Homo sapiens: one gene and its partners. The protein of the gene in region 1 interacts with the protein of each later gene in a biochemical or structural test. Each region holds a gene or a part of one and is shown in the gene's direction. Other genes may lie near its edges.

Region 1 (3,500 bases):
CCAACTGGGCTGACCTTCTGCTGTCCCTTTGTTGTCTCACCAGGAAAAGCCATCACCAAGAAGAAGTATATTGGTATCCGAATGATGTCACTCACGTCCAGGTGGGTAAACAGGATGCGTGTCTGTGTCTTAAATTTTAATAAACCTGAACTTCAGAAGGTGCTCACGGGCACCCCTGAAAGAGAAACCTTATGCTGCCTTAAGACGTCTCAGTTTCTGCTTATAATGAAGTAGCATCGGGAAAGAGGACAGGTCATTAGCCTTGGCCCCTTTGTTTGGTTTTAACCTGTGTTTTTGCATTCTGAGCTGGTTTTCTTCACTGGCAGCAGGCCCTCCGGTGTAGAAGGTTCTGCCCTCCTCTTTGAAGGCAGGCCTGAACAGTGTGTGCGTGGTGGGGCTGTTGATTCACTCTGGCTCACGTCTTCCTTACCCCACATTCTGTTGAAACCCACATTCCAGGAGGGCCCCAAGCCCCTCCCGCAGCTCTAGGCACTCTGCTTTCGTTGCTCTGCAGCTCGTGGGCCGCGGCTCCAGGAATGCCAGGGCAGGTCCAGCGCAGGGAAGTGAATGACTGATGTGCTTGTTTTCCCCGAGCTGGTGGAATTGCGGCCTGTGGTTGGCAGGCTCATGGCATCCTGGTGTTCTAAACTGGATGAAAAATTCTGGTGTAATCTCATGAGTCCTGGTAGTAGACTCACCTGGCATGGCTAAAACTGTCAGAGGTAAAGTAGGTAAAGACTAGAATATAGTAACAGATAGATTAATGTGTTCATTACTATGATGAATTAATGATTCACTCACTGTGAAAGTATTAATATATTTTGATACATGTTATGAATGGTGGTCCCTTTCTTAGCACTCCAGAAGATGGAGCCATTTGTCAAGGTTAAAGTGTCCCCTCAGTTGTTTGCCTTTGGAACTACGAGGTGTAGGGAAAGATGGTAAGCCCTTGGTGCCCAGCTTCCTGGGTTCCTGTCCCTGCTCTGATATGTCCTGCCTTGTGACCTTGGGAACGATATGACCCCTGAGTGCCTCAGTTTCCTCCTCTTCAGGATAGGGATGACAGCGCAGGTGCTTCTGATGTGTGGCCAGGCTCAGATCAGGGAGTGGTGGCAGGGGTCACCAGCCACAGTGATGCCAGCCACTATGTATCACACGTACTGGGCCAGGTGCCTTACTGGGATGATCTCATCTGATCCTCACAACTCATGTTGTAGGGTACTGTTATTATCCCCATTTTGCAGGTGAGGAAATGAAGGCACAGAGAAGTTAAGCAACTGTCCGAGGTCACACAGCTAGCAAATGGCCGAGCTAGGGCTGCAAACCAGGCCAACCACTGTACTTTACTGACTCCTTAGTAATAGCTACTATTAATTAAGAAATAATAACAATGATGATGGCTGGGTGCGGTGGCTCACATCTGTAATCCCAGCACTTTGGGAGGCCAAGGCGGGCAGATCACTTGAGGCCAGGAGTTCGAGACCAGCCTGGCCAATTTGTGAAACCCTGTTTCTACTAAAAATATAAAAAATTAGCCGGGCTTGGTGGCAGGCACCTGTAATCCCAGCTACTCGGGTGGCTGAGGCAGGAGAATTGCTTGAACCCGGGATATGTAGGTTGCAGTGAACTGAGATCGTACCACTGCACTCCAGCCTGGGCGACAGAGCAAGACTCTGTCTCAAAAAAAAAAAAATAAATAAAAAAAATAAATAAATAATAAAGCACTTTCCTTGCTGTTACCAAGTAAATCTTTGACTCTGGTAGACAGGCAATTTTAATTTTAAAATAGGATCAGAATTCCTGGAGGAATTTTACCTTAGACCTAAGGAGAAGACGGGAACTGGTGAGAGCTGAGTTTTGCGTGAGGAAGGCCTGGTGTTTCTTCACACTAACACGGGTGCTTTTTCTCTGGAGCAGCAAAGCCAAAGAGCTGAAGGACCGGCACCGGGACTTCCCAGACGTGATCTCAGGAGCGTATATAATTGAAGTAATTCCTGATACCCCAGCAGAAGCGTGAGTTGGAGTCGTTTTCTCTTTTCCCAATATTCTTGTTGTTCCTGTGGGGGTAGCAGGAAGAGGGAGCGCTGTTCCTTTTCTACTGGCTCAGATGATTATGTTGATCCTTGACAGACGTGGTCGGACGTTGCTTGTCATTCCTGCTGGCCAGGCCTTCCGACCTGGCTCGGCTCGGGACTCATCCATAGGAGGGTGCCTTCTGTCTTCAAAAGTCCTTGCTCCACGAGGACCCTCCAGATGGACAGAGCAATAGCAGACTCGTAATGAGTCTCTGAGATGGCCCGGCTGGCCAGAGAGAGGGTTTCAGGAACAGTGTCCCCAAGCCCTCACTTGGTGGTCCTTTTCTAGGCTTCAGGACCCTTCTCTTCCTGGAGTCTTCCAGAATGTCTCTGACAATTAGGCCCATACCTGTCAACACCTCCAGAAAAATAACCCAAGTGATATCAAAGTAACATGACAAGAAGTAGCTCAACCATCCATCAGGGTTTGTTACCTGTATTGGCGGAATATCCAGAGAAAAGTGCGAGACCAGGGACCAGCAAATGTGCCTTGGGGGCTGGATCTGGCCCACTGCCTGCTTTTATATGGAGCTGTGGGCTAAGAATAGTTTTTGCATTTTATTTTTATTTTTACTTATTTTTTATTTTCATAGGTTTTTGGGGGAACAGGTGGTATTTGGTTACATGAGTAAGTTCTTTGGTGGTGATTTGTGAGGTTTTGGTGCACCCATCACCCAAGCAGTGTACACTGAACCCAATTTGTAGTCTTTTATCCCTCATCCCTGTCCCAGCCTTTCCCCTTGAGTCCCCAGAGTCCATTGTATCATTCTTATGCCTTTGTGTCCTCGTAGCTTAGTTCCCACTTATGAGAACATTTAAATGGTTGAAAAAATCCTGAAATAAGAATAGTATTTTGTGACATGTTAAATTTGTATGAAATTCAAATTTCAGTGTCCACTGTAATTTGGTTTATGACATCTATGGTGGCTTTTGTGCTGGAACAGCAGAGTTGAGTAGCTTCAACAGAGACCATATGTACTGCAAAGCCTAAAATATTTCCTATGGAGCCCTTTACAGAAAAAGTTTGCAGACCCTTGTGCTAGCCCATGAAGGACCATGACAGCGTTTTGACGCTGAGCTATATAAGAGCTACAGTTATAGTGGCAACCACACAAAGGAAGTGCCTCTTAACAGAAACATTCCGCCCACCCCTATAGGAACTGCATTCTGAGTTGCAATACCCATTATAAGCAAGTTGGCCAGATAGTGGCCAACTATCTGGCAGATATCTGGCCAACTACGTGGCAGATAGTACCTGGTACATCCTTCCCCACTTTGGGGTCAATCTTGACCTTTGATCTCCTTGGGGTCATAAAGCCACACAAGTGTTAGTAGGCATTTCTACAGTGGACACAATGGATGATTTAGCCTAAAAATCTCAAAAGGAGCCCAGCATCCTGGCACATGCATGTAATCCCAGCTACT
Region 2 (3,500 bases), on another chromosome or scaffold:
TATTGACTAGGTGCTAAATGGCCACAGTCAAATTGGTAAAAATGACTATTTCCAGCCATTAGTTTTGTGACTTTTCAACCACAGATGCATGCTTTATATTTATAATCAATGATTTTTAAACAAAGAAAATAACTTCTGTAAACCAACTGGTTTTCCCATCTTTATGCATCTTGATGGTGTTGGTCAGAATTTTTAGAGAGTCAGCTTATCTTTTATGTGTGCAGAAGGTTTTGAAAATTTTTAAAAATTTCAAAGCAATGTAATATTTCTTTCAGAGTTTTATATATTTACTATCTAAGTTGCTTTCCTCTAATTGTGTTTGCTCTCCTTACTTGGCAATGTAAACATGAATTTTCAGATTTGTTTCCAGCTCCATGTAAAGTCTCCAAAAGTAAATTTGTTGAAAATGTTTCTAGCCACTAATTTCTATATTGATGATTTTGTGCACCATAGTGTGAATTTATAATTTTGCAAATATGTTTAAAGCATTTTGTTTGCTTTCTACATCATTTGGCCTTTAGTGTATTTTCAATGACACTTTGCACTTTTCTGAGCCACATTCTCACATATGCCCTCTGGTTTGTTTTTATCTTTACTCATCTTTGCTGAGACCTTCTTCTTAAAGACATATGAAACTTGCAGGAGTATAGAGCGATGGTTAGGGGCATGGACTTTGGAGTCATAAATACCTGAGTTAGAATCCATTTTCACTATTCACTAACTGAGTATTCTTGGAAATGTCACCTAACCCTGGTTTCTTCATCTAGAAATTGAGGATAATAATACCTTGTGCACAAGTTGTGAGAACTAAATGAGAGACCATGTGTACCGTGCCCTACCCAGTCCCTGTATGAAGTAAATGCTCATTAATGTTGATAGCTGTCATTAAAGGGGCCTCTATTTTTCTGTTTTGGGCTATTCTGTAAAAAAAAAAAAAAAAGCTTTAAAGTTTTCAGGCGGGGCGCGGTGGCTCACGTCTGTAATCCCAGCACTCTGGGAGGCTGAGGCGGGTGAATCACCTGAGGTCAGGAGTTTGAGACCAGCCTGACCAACGTGGTGAAACACCATTTCTACTAAAAATACAAAATTAGCCAGATGTGGTGACGCATGTCTGTAATCCCAGCTACTTGGAAGGCTGAGACAAGAGAATCGCTTGAACTCAGGAGGTGGAGGTTGCAGTGAGCTGAGATCACGCCACTGCACTCCAGTCTGGGCAACAAGAATGAAACTCCATCTCAAAAAAAAAAAAGTTTTTCAGTATGATTGTACATTGGAATATGAAGTTAAAAGATGTGAAATACTTGGCTACATCATGTCTTACTAATTAAATACTCATGTAGTCAGAGCCATTATTGTGCCTTTCATCTTGAGCTATATCACTTAGATGATGCAGTGATCTTATTTTTACTAATCATTGTTAGTTAGTAGTAATTAAATTGTCAAAACCAGTGGCAGGAATAGTTATCTGTGACTGGTTGTTTATAGTCAGACAGATGCTTGCAGTGAAACTGCTTCTTGATCTTCTCGTGTCTGCCCTTGCCCTCACTGCACCCACCTCACCTGAACTTGTCAAGGACAGTGTCTGCCTTCTTCTTTCTGTCCTGGACCCTGGCATGCCTATTACATTGTCCTGACCTGCATCCCAGGCAGGGCCCATAAAACAAGAAGTGAGACAGAATACAACATGAAGGAAGACTTCAGCTTGGAGCCTCACTCTCTGAGAGGACCAGTCTCAGTTTTAAGTATTTACTGAGCCCCCATTTTACTGTAAAATACTGAAGTAGGCATTCTATGCTGTATGGATGATAAACAGAAATAAAACCTAAACTCTGATTGGAAAAGTGAGGTATAGGACAAGCATGAAAAAGTACAAGCATGGAAACACCAACAAATACAATAATAATAATAATAATAATAATAATAGTGTCCATAAGTCAGTAGATTAAATCTCTAGGTGCCCATTTTACATATTCATAACATGCCATGTAGCTACATACATAATGTAGTCAGAAGGGGGAGGGGACTTGATTTTTGAATTTTATTTTGTTTTCCTTAGATGCTGCTTAATTCTATCTAGTTAAGGAAGAGAATTGGACAGAATTCAGGAGAGGAAAAGTGGGTGAAGGAGTTTGTGGAGTTTTAGCACGGCACCCTGTGATCACCTCTCCACAAGCATTTACACCTTTCTCTGTATGGGCATCAGATGAGATTGATAACTGAGCTGGGGAAATTGGGAGGGAAAGGCTTCATGAGCCAATGCGAGATGCAGAGCTGATCTCTGTTCCAGCATGAACACCAGCCTCTCCATTCTGTGTCTGTTTGCATTGAGACAAAGCAAGAAGGTTTCCTATGATCAAACGCATATCCTTGTGTTGCCAGGGACACCACGATCATCAACCACTCACGGAATGGCAGCTACGGAGAGAGCTCGCTGGAGGCCCACATCTGGCAAGAGGAGGAGGAGGTGGTGCAGGCCAACAGAAGGTGTCAGGACATGGAATACACGTAAGGGACGACTATGTGTGACGTGTGGGGCCCGCTGCATTCACACTCCAGGCCTTCCAGAACAGATTGCTTCTCTGTCCTGTTCTGAAAGGCTGTGAGCATGAGGTCTCCAAAAACTCTCCTCCCCCATGCTGTGCCATGGAGAGAAGGAAAAGGTTCCAACCTAAGCACGTGGTTCCACTCAGCAATGGATCTGGTGCCGGAGTTCTCTGGGGGAAATTGCGTGTCACCTGCCGGTTTTAAGATGCAGGCTGAGTCTAGTGACAGAAGAATTTAGATGTCTGTGTTATTTCTTGGTGTCTATCTCTATGACATTATGAGCTGAAAGGGGGAAACATTATATCCCAAAGATTCAGAGTTTTTGAGCCAGAATTTATATATTCCAGTCCAAAATAAAGAACATATTTAGCTAATGCACTCTTCTGATGGGCTACACAAAATTTCCAGCAGACTTTTTGACATAATAAAACTAGCCTGTCCCCCTTCACTACCTAAGGGCTTGTGGAACCCTGGGAGCCCTAGGCCTCTTATTTTGCAGATGTGAAAATAGGGCTGAGTAGTTGAGCCATTGATAGATAGGCTCAGTGAGTTACTATCAAAGTTGTGAAAATAACTCAGCATTCTTCCAGAAAAATCATCTTCTACCAGAGAACCTGTTCATCTTGGTTCTTTTTTCTTAGAAAATAGAGAAATTGACTTTAGCTGAAAGCTCACCCTGTTTGAGGCTTTAGAGTTTTTATGCTTCCCTATCCCCTACCTACCCCCGGCCCCCACCGCCAATGCTAGACCCTCTAAATATGGTCCCCAGCCGACTTCGGTCCAGGAATGTGGCCACGGTCATTCTAACTGTACCTCGCTGAAGTCCCAGTCTCCCAAGGTGCCAGAGAAGGTGTACTCTTTTGACATATGACAAAAGACCTGTCTTAACAATTTGGAGATTATCAACATTTGAAGACTCGTACTGTGCTTCATCCTGTATCCCTAAATTACAATTA
Region 3 (3,936 bases), about 11 Mb from region 1:
CAGCACAGTGTCCCCACAGAGGGGCTCTGGGAACACCAGCTAGATGGGGCAGTGGGGCCCTGAGCACATCCCGCTCAAAAGCCCCATAATGAGAGGCCGGGGAAGCGGAACGCTGTCACCCCTGCATCTAATTCTGCCTCTGTGAGTCTTCATGACAACCTCCCAATAGTACATCCTTCAGGCCCCTCAAAATCCATGGCAGCAGGGCCTGGGGACCCCCTGAACAGGCGCCAGTGTCACAGAACCTGGGGCAGAAGTAGCCATGCAAGGGTGGAGGCCAAGGAGGGAACAGGTGGAGGGGTGTGGGGTCACCCAGGGCCAAAGGGGGAACAGGTGGAGGGGTGTGGGGTCACCCAGGGCCAAAGGGGGAACAGGTGGAGGGGTGTGGAGTCCCCCAGGGCAGTTCCTGAGACTCTTGCTGAGGCTGCCACCAGGCCAGCACGTGCCCCAGAAAACGGAGTTTGTGACGAAAACTGGAGTGGACTTGGACCCACCTTGTCGGGTAGGAGGCCCCTTGGGGCAGGATAGGGACCTGTGGGATGTGTGCAGAGCCCAAACCTCGCTGCGGGTGGGAGGCTGGGCTGCGCCGCCCCTGGCACCCTGGCCTCCACACTCGCCTTGGCTCTGGATGCCCAGCTCTGTGGCCCAGGATGCAGGAGGGTTGGGGTAGGGGGACAGGGACGCTTTCTGCACAGCCACAGGCCCTGTCTGTCTACACCGGCTGCGGCTGCCCTGCTGACTCACACTCAGACGGGTTCACGACAGGTGCACCTCGGTTCTGGCATATCTGGACTTGAGAATGTTAAATAAAGGATGGAAAATTCCTTCCAAATCCATTTTCTTGTGTATATTTCTGTTCCTGCAGCTTCTCCACGGATGGAGATTGTCTTTGGGAATAACACAGGGTCGTGCAGTCCGCCCGGCGGCGTTTTCGGGCGAGGGTCTGGTGCTGGGGAGCGAGCGCGGAGCGAGGTGTCTCTTTAAATACGCTCTGCAGTGTGACGGCGGCCGCCCGGCTGGAAGAGCCATCCCCACCCTGCGGCAGGAGCCCGCCCGCCGCCATCGCCCGCCCCGGTCCCCATGGTTACGCGCCTGCCTCCGGCCCCGGGTCCCCGCTGTCGCCGCGGGAGGTGCGCGCAGAGGCGGCGGCGCTGCTGGCCGGGCTGGGCCGCTCGTGCGCGGGGCTGTGACTCACCGGCCGGCGCCGCAGCCCCGCAATCTGTTGATAACTCGGTCCCAGCTCGGCCGCTGCCCTCGCGAATGGAGAGCGGGTCCCCGGCGGGGGGAGCGCAGCGCGTCTGTCTCCGGGAGCGCGGCCCGGCCGCCCCGGCAGCCGCTTCGGCCACAGCAGGTGGGAAGGACGCGCGGGTCTGGGCGGCGGGAGGGACGCGCGGGGCCGCGGCTCGGCAGAAAAGCTCGCGCCCCGAGGTGACACTGGCCGCGAGGAAAGCAGCTCCGAGTAACTTTCGGCTCCGCTGGGGCGGGAGGCGCCACGGATAATCCAGGGCCCCCGCCCCGCGCGCCCGGCCCGGAGCTCGAGCCACATCCAGGCAGAGCAGGCGCCGCGGCCGGGCTGGGGCGGGCGGGTCACTCGGTGCCGGTTCCCGGTGCAAACCCCCCGGCGCGCCTCTGGCTTTGTGCAGCCCGAGATGGTTGAGTTTGGCTCCGGAGCCGGGAGTGGGGCGCAGATTGATTTTTAAATATGGAGAAGGAGACGCATCTGCCGCTGGCGCGTTCGGTCCGAGCCCCCCACCGGTCCCCACCGGCACCGCCTCCGCCAGCCCCAGGCGCAGCCCCCAGGCCGCCCGCGGAGGGGAGGGAGCGACAGGGGCCGCGGCTGCTCCCTGGCGGGGTCGGGGCTGCGAGCTGCCCTCCGCGGGGACCCTCCGCCCGCCCCGCTGACCGCCGCTGTCTTCACAGATGGGAGCAGCTCCCGGACTGCGCCCGCCCCGCCGCGGTCACCCTGAGGCCAGGGGCCCGGGAGCGCGACCTCCTGGCCGCCGTCTGGGACTTTGACCTTCCAGAGGCCATGGAGGCTGGCGGGGAGCAGGGCGCCACCTGATCGCCTCCCCCTGGACGCCTCCTCCAGCGGCGCTCACGCTTCCGCAACTTTGCAGCGCTCATGGTGAGTACGGGGGTCCCGGGGGTCCTGCAGCTGGGGGCTAGGCCGCTGCGGGGGGGCGGCCACCCGTATGGGGACTCCCAGGCTGGAAAAGTTGTGGAATGGCGAGCTGGTGACCGGGCTTCCGGGCTCAGTGCCGGGGTGGGAGGCTCTGTGGAGTGGGGGCCGGGGACAGGCCGCGTGTCTGGGCACCTCTGCTCCCCGCGTGCTGGGTGCTGATCATACTAATGAGTTGCAGGCATATGGCAATGTGGAATCATTTAATCAATGGAGGCGACGTCCCTCCCGCAAAGCTGGCATCCGTGCCCTGTGAAAACCTGGTCTGTGCCTGGGCTGGGGTCCCTGCCACCCCAAGCCCCTCCACCCTGGTCACCGGCCTCCTCCACGCCACCCTGCCGGCCCCTTCCCATTAGAAAGTTGATGAAAGGCAGTGCGGACAGACGTAGGTGGGCTTCAGCAGTGGAGGCTGTGGCGGAGAGAAGGCGGCCGCGCACACGGCAGGCACGGGAAGGGTGTTTCAGCGGGAAGGGGCTCGTGGCTGGCAGCTGGCTGGATCGGCTAGCCGAGCCCATCGTGGGTCCCTCCCTGAGGCACCAGCAAGCTTTTGCTGCAGTTGCTGAATGTCTGGGTTCCGGAAGGGCTGACAGCTGAGTGAACAATGCATTGTGTGTGCTGGTAAGGGACAGCTGACAGGCGGTGAGGACCCAGGGCACGTGCAGAGAATGCCAATGGCCTCTAGAATGTGCGGCCGCCACAGACGCCGGCTGGCGTGCTTCGGAGCAGACCCAGTGTTCGCTGCATAAGGAGCCATCGGTCTGAGTCACTTGCTCATTTTCTTCTTGTTCCGTTCGAAATGTCCAAGCAAGAGAGATGCCTTTGCCAACATTCAGTATCGTCTTCCAGTGGCTGCTTCACCTCTGAGGCTGGCTGAGGTCTCCGCACTTACCTTTCAGACACCTGACAAGGTTGCGTCTCCAGCACCAGCAGCACCTCAGGGGGCAGCAGGCCAGCCCCAGGGCTCCTGCCTGCCCCCAGGCTCCCACCAGCCTCAGGAACCATCGCTGTTGCCCCGCAGGTACCACACCCAGCGCAGCCCCAGGCCTCCCAGTTGGCAGGATCTGTGGCTTTTCAGCCTCAAATTGAGACCCTTATTTGCAAAATGGAAAACTGTCATTGACAGAGGACAGTGAACGGAGAAGGGCTTCTGAAGGTGGGGGTGCTGCCGCAGCCCGGGGGTCCCTCTCATCCCCTTCCTCGCCTCCTCCTCTCTAACCCTTGGCCCTTCTGCGAACAACTGTGCGGGGGCCTCCCCAATCCAAGAAGGGCACCACCCCTCGCAGGCTGAGCCTGTTCGTGCACTCTCCTCTCAGCTCCTGGCTCCTGGTGGAGCTTCCTGCTACCACCTCCTCGGCCCGGGGCCACCCGGTCCCAGCCGGCCTGGCAGCCCAGAGCTCCTGCTCACCCAAGACTGTGAAAGCCTGCTGAGCTCGATCTGCCTGGAGAGTGTGGCATTTCAGCAGCTCACTGTTTTTATTCACAACAAGTAACATTTGCACCTGAGAAAATCTCTGAAAGTGTGAGGAGTTGCCCTCCCGTGCTGCATCAGTCTGGTGCAGCATTTTTCTGCATGTGTCTCCAAGTTCACAGCGTAGTGTGACAGCGTAATTCACAGCACGTGTCTCCAAGTTCACAGCGTAGATACCTGGGCAGGCTCACCCCATGGCCATGGGGTCTTGAGAAGGAAGCCTGGAGGCCGTGGCCAGGGCAGGGTGGCCCTGACTCTGCCTGCCCCACTGCTGTGCTCTGGGGGGCTC
Region 4 (3,500 bases), on another chromosome or scaffold:
CTGAGGGGACTTGGGATCAGGGATCCCTTAGTAGGTTTTCCTGGCTCAGGGCCTTCATATCTTGGCCTGTTTCAGGTCGGGAAGATGACCCAGAGCTGGTGGGTGCCTGGGGCCACAGAGTTCCCCCCACTCCATAACCAGTTATGCACAGGCCCTTCCCACTGCCCCTGCTGATTGAGGGGCTGCCGCCTCTGGCAGAGCAACGGGGAGCTGAGCATGGCCACCAGAGGGCAGCTGGGACCGCCACAGCAGGCAAGACCGGCTCCACCCAGCTTCCTGCGGCAGACCAGGACCCTTCCCCAGACACCTGGCTTGGATGACCGGAGCTCGGCCTCCAAGCCGCCTATTGAGGGCGTGGAGTTGGAAAGGAGCCAAGCAAGGCCCCTCGGTACCCCCAACATGCTTGGTGCAGGCAGAAGGAAGCCTGAAGGCCAGCTGGTGGGTGACCACACACAGGCTCAGCAGGGACAGTGAAGGACTAGCCCTGTGCCTGCGTAGCCCCAAAAGTGCAGTGTCCTTCAAGTGTGTGCCCAGGGGCCTCCCAAGCCTTCCCAGGTGTGGTCTGTGCCTCAATGTCCACAGCAGAAGTGGGCGTGTTCTCACTATGTGCCCAGGGTGGCAGCAGGCCTAGGAGAACACTCGGTTTTGCTGTAGTGGACAGCATTGTCATTGAGCAGCATGGACCTTCCCTGTCCACTGGCCACGGGGCACTCCATTCACCTGCCTGCATTGGCTGTTGCCAGGGCATGTTCTCAGCTACCTACAGTCAGTGTCACCTCGCGCTCATAGAGCAGGAAGCGAGGAGACTTGGGGAGGGGGTGGCCTGCTGAGGCCACACTGCAGGGAGTGCAGAGCGAGCTCACCTGGGCCCCTCATTGCCTACCCAGCCCAGGCTGCATCCTCCATCCCAGTTCTGGGCCCAGTGTGTACCCATGGGAGCTGCCCTGTGCCGTCAGCTATCCAAAGGACTGTAGCTTGCCAATCTGGCTGTGTGGCCTGGGCCAGGCTTATGCCCCAGTGTGAGACCTCTCAGCCCTCTGGTTGGACCATGGATACCGTGCCAGAACCACAGGGCTTACTAGGGCATCAGTGGGGTGTAGCCAGGGGCTGACAGAGCCCCATGGCCAGCCATCGGGTCTGGACAGTTTGGTGGGGAGACCCAGTGTGGGGGTCCCATGGCATGGGTAGGCCCAGGCCATCCTCACTGGGAAAAGGGCCCAATAAAGGGCGTGGTCATTCCCCCGCTTTGAGGCGGCTGGTACTGGGTCCTTGGCCAGGCAGGTGACCCCAGAGCTTGCAGAGCACTCAGGGGGGCTCCCCAAGGTGAGCACCTCCCCACCTTCCCATATGATCCTATCACTAGTTCTGCCTTCACATCACTGTCCTGTCTGTCGTCCCTCTGTCCGTCCACTGCCCAGAGCTCCCTTAGGTTGTCCACAGATGCTCTGCTCTGCCCCTGCCTGTACGATGCTGATGTGCCTAGTGCACCCTTAGGAAGGATACCCACAGCTCTGGCTGCTCCTACCACTCAGCCTCCTGTGGTGCTGCTATCCTCTGCTCCCACCCATCTCCTGGGGGAAGCCCTCTCCAATGCCTCACTTGGACCCCTTCCCAGGGTCTGCTATTGGCTCTACCATATGGTTGCAGGTTCTTGGCCTGGCTGGACCCCATGAGGTAGGAGGCCCATGAGGAAGGACCCATGTTCTCCTTTGGTCACACTTCCCCAACTGGGTGGGGGGGGGGGACTTTGGGAGGCCTGGAGGCAGGAAGACCTGAGTTAAATCCTGGCCCAGCCCTTGTCTGGCTGGGACCCAGTTTCTCCATGTGTAAAATGGGGTATATAGCCAACCTGAGACACCTGGTAGAGTCAGTGAGATGACGGCTCACAGCCAGTGTGTCTCGGTTCTGTGGCACATGGTGACTCCGGGGGAGAGGCTGGTGCTTATCAGGGATAAAAAAAAAAAGTCACATGGTTCTCTGTGGTACAAAACCTATGTGAACACTTAAGCTAAAACCAGAGGTTTCCTAGAAATGTCACACTCAGAGCAAAAGCTGGTTCCTAAGCCTCAGACCTTGGAGTAGGAGCAGCATCTCCTCTTCCTCGGGGCGCAGTGCTGGTGGATGGGCTCCCAACCGGGCCTGCCCATCTCAGGTGCACACACACACTCATATTCACATGCACGCACATGCATATGCACATGTGCCTGGCTTGGTCCCCAGTTCTTCCCTGCCTCAGGCCCTGCATCCCACCCCCCATGATCCCACCCTGAGGCGTAGCCAGTCGCCCACCCTCACTTGGACCCCTTCCCATGATGAAGAGGCTGTCGTGAGACGGGGAAACACACCGTTGGGGCACCAGAATGGACCATGACCACAAAGGACTATTGGGCGGGGCCTCAGAACAATCTAGAAAACACCGTAGAGGCGGGGGAGAGAGCTCTCATTACCGATGTCCCCCAGAGACAGCCTCCCATCCGAGGCCCAGCCCTTCCCTGTCTGTCTGCAGTGTCCTGTTTTTCATTTTTATGACATGAACACTCTGGCAATATCCCCGGGCCTAGATATAAGGAGAGGGAATGTGTCCCCGGGGCCATTAGCTGAGACAGGAAGCCGCAGGGTCCTCCCCTGAGGAAGGCTGAAAGCTGTGTGAGTACAGGCACCCCCTTGTCTCCTGCTCCAGCCCATAAGCCTCAGCTCCCCAGGCTTGAGTGCCAGGTCCCCCATCCCAGACAAATGGTTATTCACACCTGGCCACAGCTCCAGGGCCAGGAACCTGCCTGCTTCCCCGCCCTCCCTGTACTGGAGACTGTTGGGGGCAGCTGCCTGCCTGGGAGGGCCCAGGATCTATGTTGGCCTCAGGGAACCTCAGGAGAGGCACGTGGCCTCGCCCACAAGGCGGGAGCGGACTCTAGGGAGGTGGAGCAGATGTCTTATGGGGCTGTGAGCACCTGCGTGGGGCAACAGGACCCTGAGCCTGGCTACCCTGGGGTGGGAATACTGCTGTGCTGTGTGTGATGGGGAAGACGTCATTATCAGTCCACATCTCTGAAGGATCACGTTTCTGAAGGATGGTCAACAGCATTAGACATGCTGACAAGGAACCGTGGCAGCCCAGTGTCACCTACAGTCCTGGACATGTGGGGGCAAGAAGGTACACATGAGTGTGTGGTTATGAGTCAGGAGCACCACGGGATGACCTTCAGATCAGGCATGACAAGGTCCTGCTTAGAGGACGGTCTGGGCTTGTGTACCTTTATCCGGCAGGGACCTACCCAGCTGGATTGACCTCACTCATGCCCTCTGGTTTCCCTGCAGGAGCCAGAGCCTGCAGGGTGGGTGTCGGGACATGCTGATCTTCCCTCAAGACAGGTGAGTGGCCTGGGTTTAGCTTGGGGACATCCTCTCCCACATAGGACAGCAGAGTGTTCTGGTGGGCCTGGCGGGTGGGGGTGACAGGGATGGACTGGCCCTGGACACTGTGTGCTCCTGGTCCTTCTCAC
Region 5 (3,500 bases), on another chromosome or scaffold:
ATGGTATAATTTTTTAAAAGCACAAAAGAACTCTTCTGAAATTCATGAAGAAAATGGTAGTTTGTTAAAATAGTTATAAATTTGGAAAAAGCTGCCTTAAAATTTTTAGGGTGATAGATGAATAAAATATGTCTAAGTTAAATATTAACAGGGATTTTATATATGCTTGTTTTGTGAAAGCAGTGCTAGATACATACAAATTCTTGGTATTTAGTAATTGATGAAGGCAATATCTAGGTGAGATCCAAGTAAGTACCTGGAATATTGCCTAAAGTCCTCCATTATCGGGGCTAAAACATGCAAATGTTTCATCTCTGGCCATAGAGAAAAGTCAGGAATTGCAGAAATTCTGCTCACCTTTGGTCCTTCTTTTAAAACTGGAAACACAATTCTAGGCCCATTGTCTAGTGGATGAAAATGCTTTTACCTGCCATGTCCACTGTTGAATATAGATCTTACACGTTTACATAGTTTGTTGGAAATAACATCTATGTCTTATCCTGATAATTAGTTTCTAATCTTTTAACCAAAAATAATTGGCACATTTAAAATTATAATCTAATGTGGAAATAATTTTCTTAATGTGGATGCAGATAATTTTTTTTCAGAAACATAGTAACTATTTAGAACAAAAAGTCTGATATAGTCAGTTAATCTAAGACACAGGTATTAGTCCTGTTACTCACATTGCAGTCTTTCTTCAACTGTGGTCTACAGAATGCTTAGCTTCTGAGTCATGAGTCTTGTTAAAAATGAAGTCCTAGGCCTTATCCCAAATCCCCTTTTATCAGGATTTCTGTTGTTAGAGTTCAGAAACTTGCATTTTAACAAGCATCTCTGAAAACAACTTCACTTTATATACAACACAGGGGTTCACTGTTGTAGAAGAAAATCACTATTTGATTTTAAAATACTTAAATTTTCTTACACTATGTGAAATATATTTATAGGAGCCTTTTAGGTTGATGATTATAAAAAAAATTTGGAGAGCAAAGGTGAAAAGACATAGTTTACTGTGAAGTATAATGAGTCTCTCTAGCAAGTAGCTGAAATATTCTGTTCAACACAATGCTAATTGCATTAGCCTAGAGAACACCTAAGATCTGACACATTCATTAGGGCTTAGCAGTCAACCTATTAATCACTACTGTGGGGTCACTGAGTAAGATGGAGCATGTTCAGAGGCCTGGCCTGTGATGTCAGGACTGGAGTCTCTTGTAGTAATTAGTTGGTATCTGGGCTTTGGTAGCAAGGTATTATCTTCCCTTCTGATGTCTGAATTAAAAATGAAACTAATGAAAGGTTCGCAGGAAGGATGGAAAAGAATGCAAATTATGTTTATACCTTACTTCATCCTTAGAATAATGGCATCACATTACAGCAATCCATCTGGATGTCCATATGTTCTCCTGGAGATCTAGCAAATTTTAGCAAATAGGTCAAACAGTGTGGTCACCCCATTAATAAAGCACTAAGTAGAGGTAGAAAACATAATTTAAACTTTCTACACTGTTTAGAAGGACATAGGGTTTTATTTTGTAAATAGTGATTACATAGGATTATCTTTTAGTGCAATATTTGTTTTTGTATTCTATTGAATGATAATCTATATATGGTTACCTCTACAGTTACTGGCGACAGATTTGGACTGCCAGTTTCTGTGAGTACTTTATATGACTTTTCTGGTAAAAATCTATTCTGACTTGGAAGAATCAGCCATTCTGGAGAGAAGAATTGGCTTTGTCTCCATGGTAACTTATTTTTCTGTTTTATGTGAATAGTGACGGCCAATTGTGCTAAAGTAAGGGTGATAGTTTTGTGATGAACTACTTTACATGGGGATTGAACATTAGAACACTGAGCTTATTTTACTGGAGGCCGAGAAGCAAAAGGCTTTAACATAGCAGGTTGGTGGTCATAATGTACAATATGTATTTTTCTATTCTCTTAAAATTTTAAATAAGCTCAATATATTATTCTACATTGTGCCCTAATATTTTGCAGAATGAGGGAGGCTATTAAAATAATTCATGCTGTGCAATATCTTAGCAGCAATAAAAAAAGAAAGTCATTCCATTCCTGTGTTTGAGATAGGTAGAGCTTTCATCTTAGATTTATAAAAAGCAAAAAGTACCAGGTACACTTTGACAGCCCTGTGCAAGTAGGCTGTGGACTTTTTATATCTATGCCATGTTAGACTCTTTTTTTCATCTGTAGGCATAAATATTACTAAAGCTTTCTATGAAATATGGTACAGTGTGGCAGAAACTATTATGCTCACCGTGCATCCATGCACTCCTCTATATTTCCCAGCTTTCCTCCCCTTAGGCTGAGGCCAAGTGACTAGTTCTGACCAATTAAATATAAGCGGAAGGACATCTGTCCCTCTGGACACCTCCTGGACAAGGTGGTTTGATCTGGCATGCATCTTCCCTTTCTCTACAGTTATATAGACTATACTGATCATTACAAACATGAGGGCTTGGTTTATTGTGTAACAACAATATAAGTTATATAAATTATTACATGGGATGAGAACACACTATGAGATAGCCTTAGTCAATTTAGCTTATATTATATCATGAAATGTACAAGTGCTACTCTATCAGATCTCTGTTAGAGAAGAGGTATCCTTTGGTAGCCTAGAGAACACCTAAGATCTGACACATTCATTAGGGCTTAGCAGTCAACCTATTAATCACTACTGTGGGGTCACTGAGTAAGACAGAGCGTGTTCAGAGCATGTTCATTTTTCTCAAATGAAAAAGAAGTTGTGAGTGGATATTATCATTGCCAGTCTTCATGGAATAAAAGTGAGAGGCAAGGACTTCAAAACACAAAGTAGGAATGGAATCATGGCCCTGGAGCTTTCTATGATGAAATCTGTGTGTCTCTTCCAAAACAGGGATGAAAGGGGACAGAGGTCAACAACAGATTGGAAGTGTGCTTAGAGCCTTTGAAATTATTCCAGGACACACTTTCCCTACAGAGGGCTGATAATCTAGTACAAATAATATCAGATAGTTACTAAATGTTATTTTCAACAGAAATTCTAAGAACCTTTATTGAAATCTTTTCTGACTGATATATGTGCCTCAGACAGTGAACCTTTCACTTACTGATGTATAAAAAGAACCTATTTATTAATTTATGACCTGACAAGAATAAGACTATCTTTCCTGATTTTTGGCTTAAAAATTTTCAAAAATATGTTATTATATCATTACTCACTTTATGCAGATGTGTTTTTGTTGTAAATGACAGAAACCTGATACAGATACCCTAAAGCCTAAAGAGAAATGTTCATGTATACAAATCAGAGGAGAAGCAGAGACACCAATGTCTTCCAGCTCAACTAGCACCAGTAATTCTGTTTGTCCAGCATGTTACACTCTCTCTTCTCTCTTCTGTTTCTTCCAGAGGGCAGCTTTGTTTATTTATGTTGATATTCTTCCCCTGGCACAAGGAAGATGTCTACCAACACTTCAGCCTCATATTTC
Region 6 (3,500 bases), on another chromosome or scaffold:
TGTCTTCCTGCTTACTGCCATTAGCCTGGATCGCTGTCTTGTGGTATTCAAGCCAATCTGGTGTCAGAATCATCGCAATGTAGGGATGGCCTGCTCTATCTGTGGATGTATCTGGGTGGTGGCTTTTGTGATGTGCATTCCTGTGTTCGTGTACCGGGAAATCTTCACTACAGACAACCATAATAGATGTGGCTACAAATTTGGTCTCTCCAGCTCATTAGATTATCCAGACTTTTATGGAGATCCACTAGAAAACAGGTCTCTTGAAAACATTGTTCAGCCGCCTGGAGAAATGAATGATAGGTTAGATCCTTCCTCTTTCCAAACAAATGATCATCCTTGGACAGTCCCCACTGTCTTCCAACCTCAAACATTTCAAAGACCTTCTGCAGATTCACTCCCTAGGGGTTCTGCTAGGTTAACAAGTCAAAATCTGTATTCTAATGTATTTAAACCTGCTGATGTGGTCTCACCTAAAATCCCCAGTGGGTTTCCTATTGAAGATCACGAAACCAGCCCACTGGATAACTCTGATGCTTTTCTCTCTACTCATTTAAAGCTGTTCCCTAGCGCTTCTAGCAATTCCTTCTACGAGTCTGAGCTACCACAAGGTTTCCAGGATTATTACAATTTAGGCCAATTCACAGATGACGATCAAGTGCCAACACCCCTCGTGGCAATAACGATCACTAGGCTAGTGGTGGGTTTCCTGCTGCCCTCTGTTATCATGATAGCCTGTTACAGCTTCATTGTCTTCCGAATGCAAAGGGGCCGCTTCGCCAAGTCTCAGAGCAAAACCTTTCGAGTGGCCGTGGTGGTGGTGGCTGTCTTTCTTGTCTGCTGGACTCCATACCACATTTTTGGAGTCCTGTCATTGCTTACTGACCCAGAAACTCCCTTGGGGAAAACTCTGATGTCCTGGGATCATGTATGCATTGCTCTAGCATCTGCCAATAGTTGCTTTAATCCCTTCCTTTATGCCCTCTTGGGGAAAGATTTTAGGAAGAAAGCAAGGCAGTCCATTCAGGGAATTCTGGAGGCAGCCTTCAGTGAGGAGCTCACACGTTCCACCCACTGTCCCTCAAACAATGTCATTTCAGAAAGAAATAGTACAACTGTGTGAAAATGTGGAGCAGCCAACAAGCAGGGGCTCTTAGGCAATCACATAGTGAAAGTTTATAAGAGGATGAAGTGATATGGTGAGCAGCGGACTTCAAAAACTGTCAAAGAATCAATCCAGCGGTTCTCAAACGGTACACAGACTATTGACATCAGCATCACCTAGAAACTTGTTAGAAATGCAAATTCTCAAGCCGCATCCCAGACTTGCTGAATCGGAATCTCTGGGGGTTGGGACCCAGCAAGGGCACTTAACAAACCCTCGTTTCTGATTAATGCTAAATGTAAGAATCATTGTAAACATTAGTTCTATTTCTATCCCAAACTAAGCTATGTGAAATAAGAGAAGCTACTTTGTTTTTAAATGATGTTGAATATTTGTCGATATTTCCATCATTAAATTTTTCCTTAGCATTGTCTAAGTCTTCCAGATTCCATTTAAAACCATTTCTTGTTCTCCTACGTGAGTGAAAGATGATCATATATCCTAATGCTTTGTTGTCGTGTGGTGTTGATGGTTTTAAACGAAAAGAAAGTGCAAAAAGAAAATGCCTGTGAAGACAAGAAGCCATGAGACTGAGTCTGGAGCATAGGGTTATGCAATGATGCCTGTCCCTGGGAACACCCCTGGGTACAGGATATAGAAATTTCCACTATTACATAGAGTTTCCACTATTACAACTAAATAAGCATCTATTGTGTGAAAACTGACTCATGAAATGTTATGAAAGCTGTGGTTTGGGGAGTTCTGTTTCTTCTAACTGCCTACCGGTTGGGCACCTATTTTCCACTCCTCTTCCTAAGCTCCTTAATTTCCTTATTACTCCCCAGCCTCCAAATCTTCCACATCAGACTTTGTGCCTCAAACAACCTCTAATTTCGTAAGATTCTAGTTACTCCCTTCCTCTTGCTCCAAATGAATACTTTCTAAGAAAGTATTTCAAGTGGAAGGAGAAAGAGGGTGGAGGATGGAGCAGCAATTCTTCTACTCTCTGCAACTGAGTACCCTACCAGGCTTGCCATCACATTTTAAAACATGACGACAGGCAACTTACATGCCAAAATTACCAAATATATCTTCTGGGTTTTTTAAATCCTTTTCTTTGCCAAAGTAATACATGCACATAGTTTTAAAATAATTTAATAAGGTATATAATGAAATATGAGGTCTCCTACCTCACTGTGCCCAAAAGTTCCCTCCTCCCACTCTCATTTCCCAGAGATAATCCTTGCACAATTTTAGATGTTTCCTTTGATAATTATCATGATGTTTCTAAATCATGTGCTTATGCTGCTCTTTTCTGGAGGCATGATAAAACGACTTCTTGTTTTGAAAGATGAAGATGTTTATCCAAGCACCCCATATTTTTAATTTGTTTATCCAGCATCCCAACATTCATTAATAACCATATTTTAATTCATTCATGACCACATATTTTTCTTCTACTTTGTCTATACACTCCAACCATTTATATAGCTTTCCTTCTGTCCCTTTTTCATTTAAAACAAAATTACCTAACTCCCTACCACCTTCTCATTTTTCTGTATATATAAATGTTTGTGTCAAACGTCTGAAATTTCTGGCTTGTTTGTATCACAACGTGGCCTCATCTAAACCAAATACAATGATGTAGTCTAAAAACAGAAAATGACATGTGTTTTAGACCTGCAAGACACTATCTGTTCAATGGCTGAGGTGAGGGTCTGGACTACAGATTTTTTATAAAGTATATGCAGAAAAATTACAAATCACTAGGAATTCTTTCAGTTGTGAAGAATGTCTGACATAAGATTTGAAGTGCTACCTTTCCAGCTTATATATTAATTTGCTTATATATTTGATATGAATAAATGCTTTTTTTCTCATGGGTCCTTGCGAGGCTCAGAGATTTATGAATCCTTTTGTTTCACATTCAGAATATATCACATCTCTAAATATGCAGCAAATAAGTCTCCTAGTGAGTGACTATAGACTTGCTATAATAGCAATTAGCCAGGCTTCCAGAAACCCCAGCACATCCCATAAGACCCTGGGAATAAGACCTAAACTCCTGGGGTTAGTGTATAGGATATCAAGGTGAATAATCTTGACGCAGTTATAAAGATTTAATGTACAACGAGTAATCAGCATTTCTGGACTCCTTTTCTTTTCCATTTGCTTTGGAAATGTATTCTGAAGAAATTCCTACAATTAGAGCTCCCTCATTTCTGATGAAAACCTGGTGAGTACCTGTAACTATTTTGTACTGTATCTTCTCCAGGAAGTCCCAGATGGGAACACAGCTCCTGTCCAAAGTATAATATCTTTTCTTTTTTTTTTTGAGATGAAGTATCACTCTGTAGCCCAGGCTAGAGCACAGTGGCACACTTGGCACGATCTC
Region 7 (3,500 bases), on another chromosome or scaffold:
GGCTCAGAGCCTGCCAGGGATGGGCCAGGGAGTCTGGAGAGGCCCAGGATGCCTGCGGGGGGGGGGGGGGGGGCACTGGGATACCGGTGGGGGGGGCACAGGGATGCCTGCTGGTGGAGGGCACACAAGGATGCCCGTGGGGGACACTGTGATGTGGGTTGGGGGGGGGGGGGGCAGTATGGGGATGCCCACTGAGGGGGCACTGTGACTCCTGACCAGCAGAGAGTAGGGGCCTCCTCCCGCCTTCCATCCTCCCCGCCTTCCATCCTCTCCGCCTTCCATCCAGCCGTCCTCTCAGTCTCTTTCTGTGCACCTGCTGCACCAGCCTCCTCCCAGAGGAGGTCCTCCCCACCTCACCTCCGCACCCCCGGCTGCACTGCCCACCTCCCCTGCTCCACCCACGCTCAGGCCCTGGTGCATTGCAGGATGGACAATGGGGAGGCCTGCTTCATCCTCAGCAGCAGGAACGAGGTGGACCGCACGGCTGCAGTGAGTGAGGCTGAGGCCCTGCCCAGGCGGGAGGGGCACCGTGGGGCCGGGGAGCGGGGGTCCCTGAGGGAAGAGACCTGCCCCAGGCTGCCGGTGCCGCCCAGCAGCCCACAGAGGCCAGCCCGTCTGCACTGACCAACCACCCACCCCGCCAGGACCACCAGACCATCCTGCGCGCCTGGGCCGTGAAGGACTTCGCCCCCAACTGCCCCCTCTACGTCCAGATCCTCAAACCTGAAAACAAGTTTCACGTCAAGTTTGCTGGTGCGTCTGGGGCACACGTGGGTGATGGTGTATCTGGGGCAGGGCACGTGTGCACACGTGGGTGATGGTGCATCTGGGGCAGGGCGCATGTGCACATGTGTGACGGTGCGTCTGGGGCAGGACGCGTGTGCACACGTGGGTGACGGTGCGTCTGGGGCAGGATGCGTGTGCACACGTGGGTGTCGGTGCGTCTGGGGCAGGGCGCATGTGCACACGTGGGTGACGGTGCGTCTGGGGCAGGGCGCGTGTGCACACGTGGGTGACAGTGCATCTGGGGCAGGGCACGTGTGCACGTGTGTGTCGGTGTGTCTGGGGCAGGGCGCGTGTGCATGCTGTTGGGTGATGGTGCGTCTGGGGCAGGGCGCGTGTGCACACGTGGGTGACGGTGTGTCTGGGGCAGGGCGCATGTGCACGCAGTTAGGCGAGCTGTGTGGGGCAGCGGGAGGGGCTGGCCCTGGAGCTCCTCACACAAGCACACCAGGAGGTGCTGGAGGGGACGGCAGACCCCCATCCTCACCGCATCCGAGAAGGGACCTAGGGGGTCCAAACTCTTCAGATGAAGTCTTATGCTGGGATCCTGGGGTCAGTGAAGGCAGGGTCAGAGGTCAGGTGGGGGCAGGAGCACCGTCTGATGAGCACCTCTATGGGCAGGGACCATGCCGGGTGCCCGGGGAACGGGGGGCAGGCCCCATGCCAGGTGCCCAGGGGACAGGGGTCAGGGCCCACATGGAGTGCCCAAGGCACAGGGGCCAGGGCCTGCCCCGCCCTGGAACTCCTCGCTGAGCTGGGAGAGAAGCACAGGAGCGATGGAAGGTCCACCGAGGCTCAGACCAAGTAGGGGGTTGAGGTCCACAGACTCTCGGGGCAGAGATGCTGAAGCCGGACAGCAGACACGGGGGTGCCAGGCAAGGGTGCATCTGCATAGCACCTTCAGGAAGTGAGCAGGTACTGTGGGGGAGGAGAGAGCCGGCAGAGCGGCAGGTGGACCGGCCTCCCCCACTGCCCGCAGACCACGTGGTGTGTGAGGAGGAGTGCAAGTACGCCATGCTGGCGCTGAACTGCATCTGCCCGGCGACCTCCACCCTCATCACCCTGCTGGTGCACACGTCCCGCGGCCAGTGAGTGCCCCGTGCCCCGGGGGACCGACCTCCATGGCGGGGCCGGCGCAGGGAGACAACGCAGGGCCTGCTTGGGGGCGGGGATGGGCTTCCCAGAGGAGGGGCACATGGCGGGCAAAAGTCCTGCATAGGGAGGGGATCCATGCCAGGGGAAGCAGAGGGGGGCACCTGCAGACCCAGCCGGGGAGAAGGGGCAGCCATGGCCGAGGGTGACGCTCCCCTGGCCCCGCCCTGGCCCACAGGGAGGGACAGGAGTCTCCGGAGCAGTGGCAGCGCATGTATGGGCGCTGCTCCGGCAACGAGGTGTACCACATCCGCATGGGTGACAGCAAGTTCTTCCGCGAGTACGAGGGCAAGAGCTTCACCTACGCGGCCTTCCACGCCCACAAGAAGTAAGGCCGGGCTGCATCCACAGGGCTGGCGCTCCAGGGCTGCTCTGCTCTGTGCCCTCCCCACCCTCCCGGTCAGGCACAGGGGTGGCCCTGGGGCGGGGCTGCAGAGGGCTCGGGGGAGGGCATCAGGTCATCCTGCCTGGCGAGGGCAGCCGCAGGACTGGGCTCCGGGTCCACATAAAAACCTGCCACGCGGCTCCTCCCTGAGGCTTGTGGGCTGACCCCAGCTCTCTGGTCCCCAACACCTCTGGGACGGGAGGGCTCAGCCAAGGTCCCTGACCCCAAATGGCCCCCAGGAGGAAGACGCGGAGCTCCGGTGGGGACTCTGGTGATTTGCAGGAAGGGCAGGCAGGGAGCGGGACAGGGCGGGTGAGCGGCGGTACCTGAAGTTGCCGGTGCCTCTGCCCAGGTATGGCGTGTGCCTCATCGGGCTGAAGCGGGAGGACAACAAGAGCATCCTGCTGAACCCGGGGCCCCGGCACATCCTGGCCGCCTCTGACACCTGCTTCTACATCAACATCACCAAGGAGGAGAACTCGGCCTTCATCTTCAAGCAGGAGGAGAAGCGGAAGAAGAGGGCCTTCTCGGGGCAGGGGCTGCACGAGGGTCCGGCCCGCCTGCCCGTGCACAGCATCATCGCCTCCATGGGTGAGCCGGGACAGGCGCGCGGGACTCCCTGGGCCTGCTCCTTTGGCGGGAGACCAGGCGGGACACCGGCAGGTGACCAGGTGGGATGGGAGACCAGGCAGGACAGGGGGAGGTGACCAGGTGGGACAGGAGACCAGGCAGGACAGGGGCAGGTGACCAGGTGGGACGGGAGACCAGGCAGGGCGGGAGACCAGGTGGGACAGGAGACCAGACCGGGCAGGGCAGGAGACCAGGCCAATGTGGCCCCCAGACCCAGTTCCTCTTGGCCTATGCCTCCAACCTTGGACAGGTGGAGTCTCTCTGGGCCTGTTTTTGAATCTGTCAAACAGGTGTCCCCGCCTTCCTGTGGCCACCTTTGTGGGCATTGCTCACTGTGTCCAAGTGCCTGTCCAAGTGGGGCCGCCCACAGGACCGGTTGGCAGCTCAACCGGAGGCTCCTGGTGGTCCCATCAGCCCGGAGGGTCTGCTTCACGTGTGTCCCTCAAACAGTCGGGAGTCCTGACGTCCACTGGGGCCAGGAGTTGGCGGAATGAGGTCGCAGTGGCCGAGGGCTTTGGCCTCTTCTCGTGCCTTCAGGGATCCTCCCGGG

The links.
Region 2: the proteins of HTRA1 (region 1) and AMOTL1 interact in a test that uses a peptide from one of them, tested with the Homo sapiens proteins (one large-scale study listed by IntAct).
Region 3: the proteins of HTRA1 (region 1) and ADGRA1 interact in a test that uses a peptide from one of them, tested with the Homo sapiens proteins (one large-scale study listed by IntAct).
Region 4: the proteins of HTRA1 (region 1) and ARVCF interact in a test that uses a peptide from one of them, tested with the Homo sapiens proteins (one large-scale study listed by IntAct).
Region 5: the proteins of HTRA1 (region 1) and SLC16A7 interact in a test that uses a peptide from one of them, tested with the Homo sapiens proteins (one large-scale study listed by IntAct).
Region 6: the proteins of HTRA1 (region 1) and C3AR1 interact in a test that uses a peptide from one of them, tested with the Homo sapiens proteins (one large-scale study listed by IntAct).
Region 7: the proteins of HTRA1 (region 1) and KCNT1 interact in a test that uses a peptide from one of them, tested with the Homo sapiens proteins (one large-scale study listed by IntAct).

Annotation. Positions count from the first base shown.
Region 1 is NC_000010.11:122,510,053-122,513,552, forward strand, and holds part of HTRA1 (serine protease HTRA1 precursor), read left to right. Parts: intron 1-43; coding exon 44-101; intron 102-1,917; coding exon 1,918-2,013; intron 2,014-3,500. UniProt on the Homo sapiens protein: Serine protease with a variety of targets, including extracellular matrix proteins such as fibronectin. HTRA1-generated fibronectin fragments further induce synovial cells to up-regulate MMP1 and MMP3 production.
Region 2 is NC_000011.10:94,862,356-94,865,855, forward strand, and holds part of AMOTL1 (angiomotin-like protein 1), read left to right. Parts: intron 1-2,379; coding exon 2,380-2,505; intron 2,506-3,500. UniProt on the Homo sapiens protein: Inhibits the Wnt/beta-catenin signaling pathway, probably by recruiting CTNNB1 to recycling endosomes and hence preventing its translocation to the nucleus.
Region 3 is NC_000010.11:133,086,788-133,090,723, forward strand, and holds the start of ADGRA1 (adhesion G protein-coupled receptor A1), read left to right. Parts: upstream 1-1,136; 5' UTR 1,137-1,351; intron 1,352-1,920; 5' UTR 1,921-2,122; coding exon 2,123-2,125; intron 2,126-3,936.
Region 4 is NC_000022.11:20,010,324-20,013,823, reverse strand, and holds part of ARVCF (splicing regulator ARVCF), read left to right. Parts: intron 1-3,315; 5' UTR 3,316-3,369; intron 3,370-3,500. UniProt on the Homo sapiens protein: Contributes to the regulation of alternative splicing of pre-mRNAs.
Region 5 is NC_000012.12:59,707,529-59,711,028, forward strand, and holds part of SLC16A7 (monocarboxylate transporter 2), read left to right. Parts: intron 1-3,500. UniProt on the Homo sapiens protein: Proton-coupled monocarboxylate symporter. Catalyzes the rapid transport across the plasma membrane of monocarboxylates such as L-lactate, pyruvate and ketone bodies, acetoacetate, beta-hydroxybutyrate and acetate.
Region 6 is NC_000012.12:8,056,360-8,059,859, reverse strand, and holds the end of C3AR1 (C3a anaphylatoxin chemotactic receptor), read left to right. Parts: coding exon 1-1,123; 3' UTR 1,124-3,016; downstream 3,017-3,500.
Region 7 is NC_000009.12:135,768,185-135,771,684, forward strand, and holds part of KCNT1 (potassium channel subfamily T member 1), read left to right. Parts: intron 1-425; coding exon 426-489; intron 490-644; coding exon 645-753; intron 754-1,762; coding exon 1,763-1,871; intron 1,872-2,113; coding exon 2,114-2,263; intron 2,264-2,672; coding exon 2,673-2,911; intron 2,912-3,500. UniProt on the Homo sapiens protein: Sodium-activated K(+) channel. Acts as an important mediator of neuronal membrane excitability. Contributes to the delayed outward currents. Regulates neuronal bursting in sensory neurons. Contributes to synaptic development and plasticity.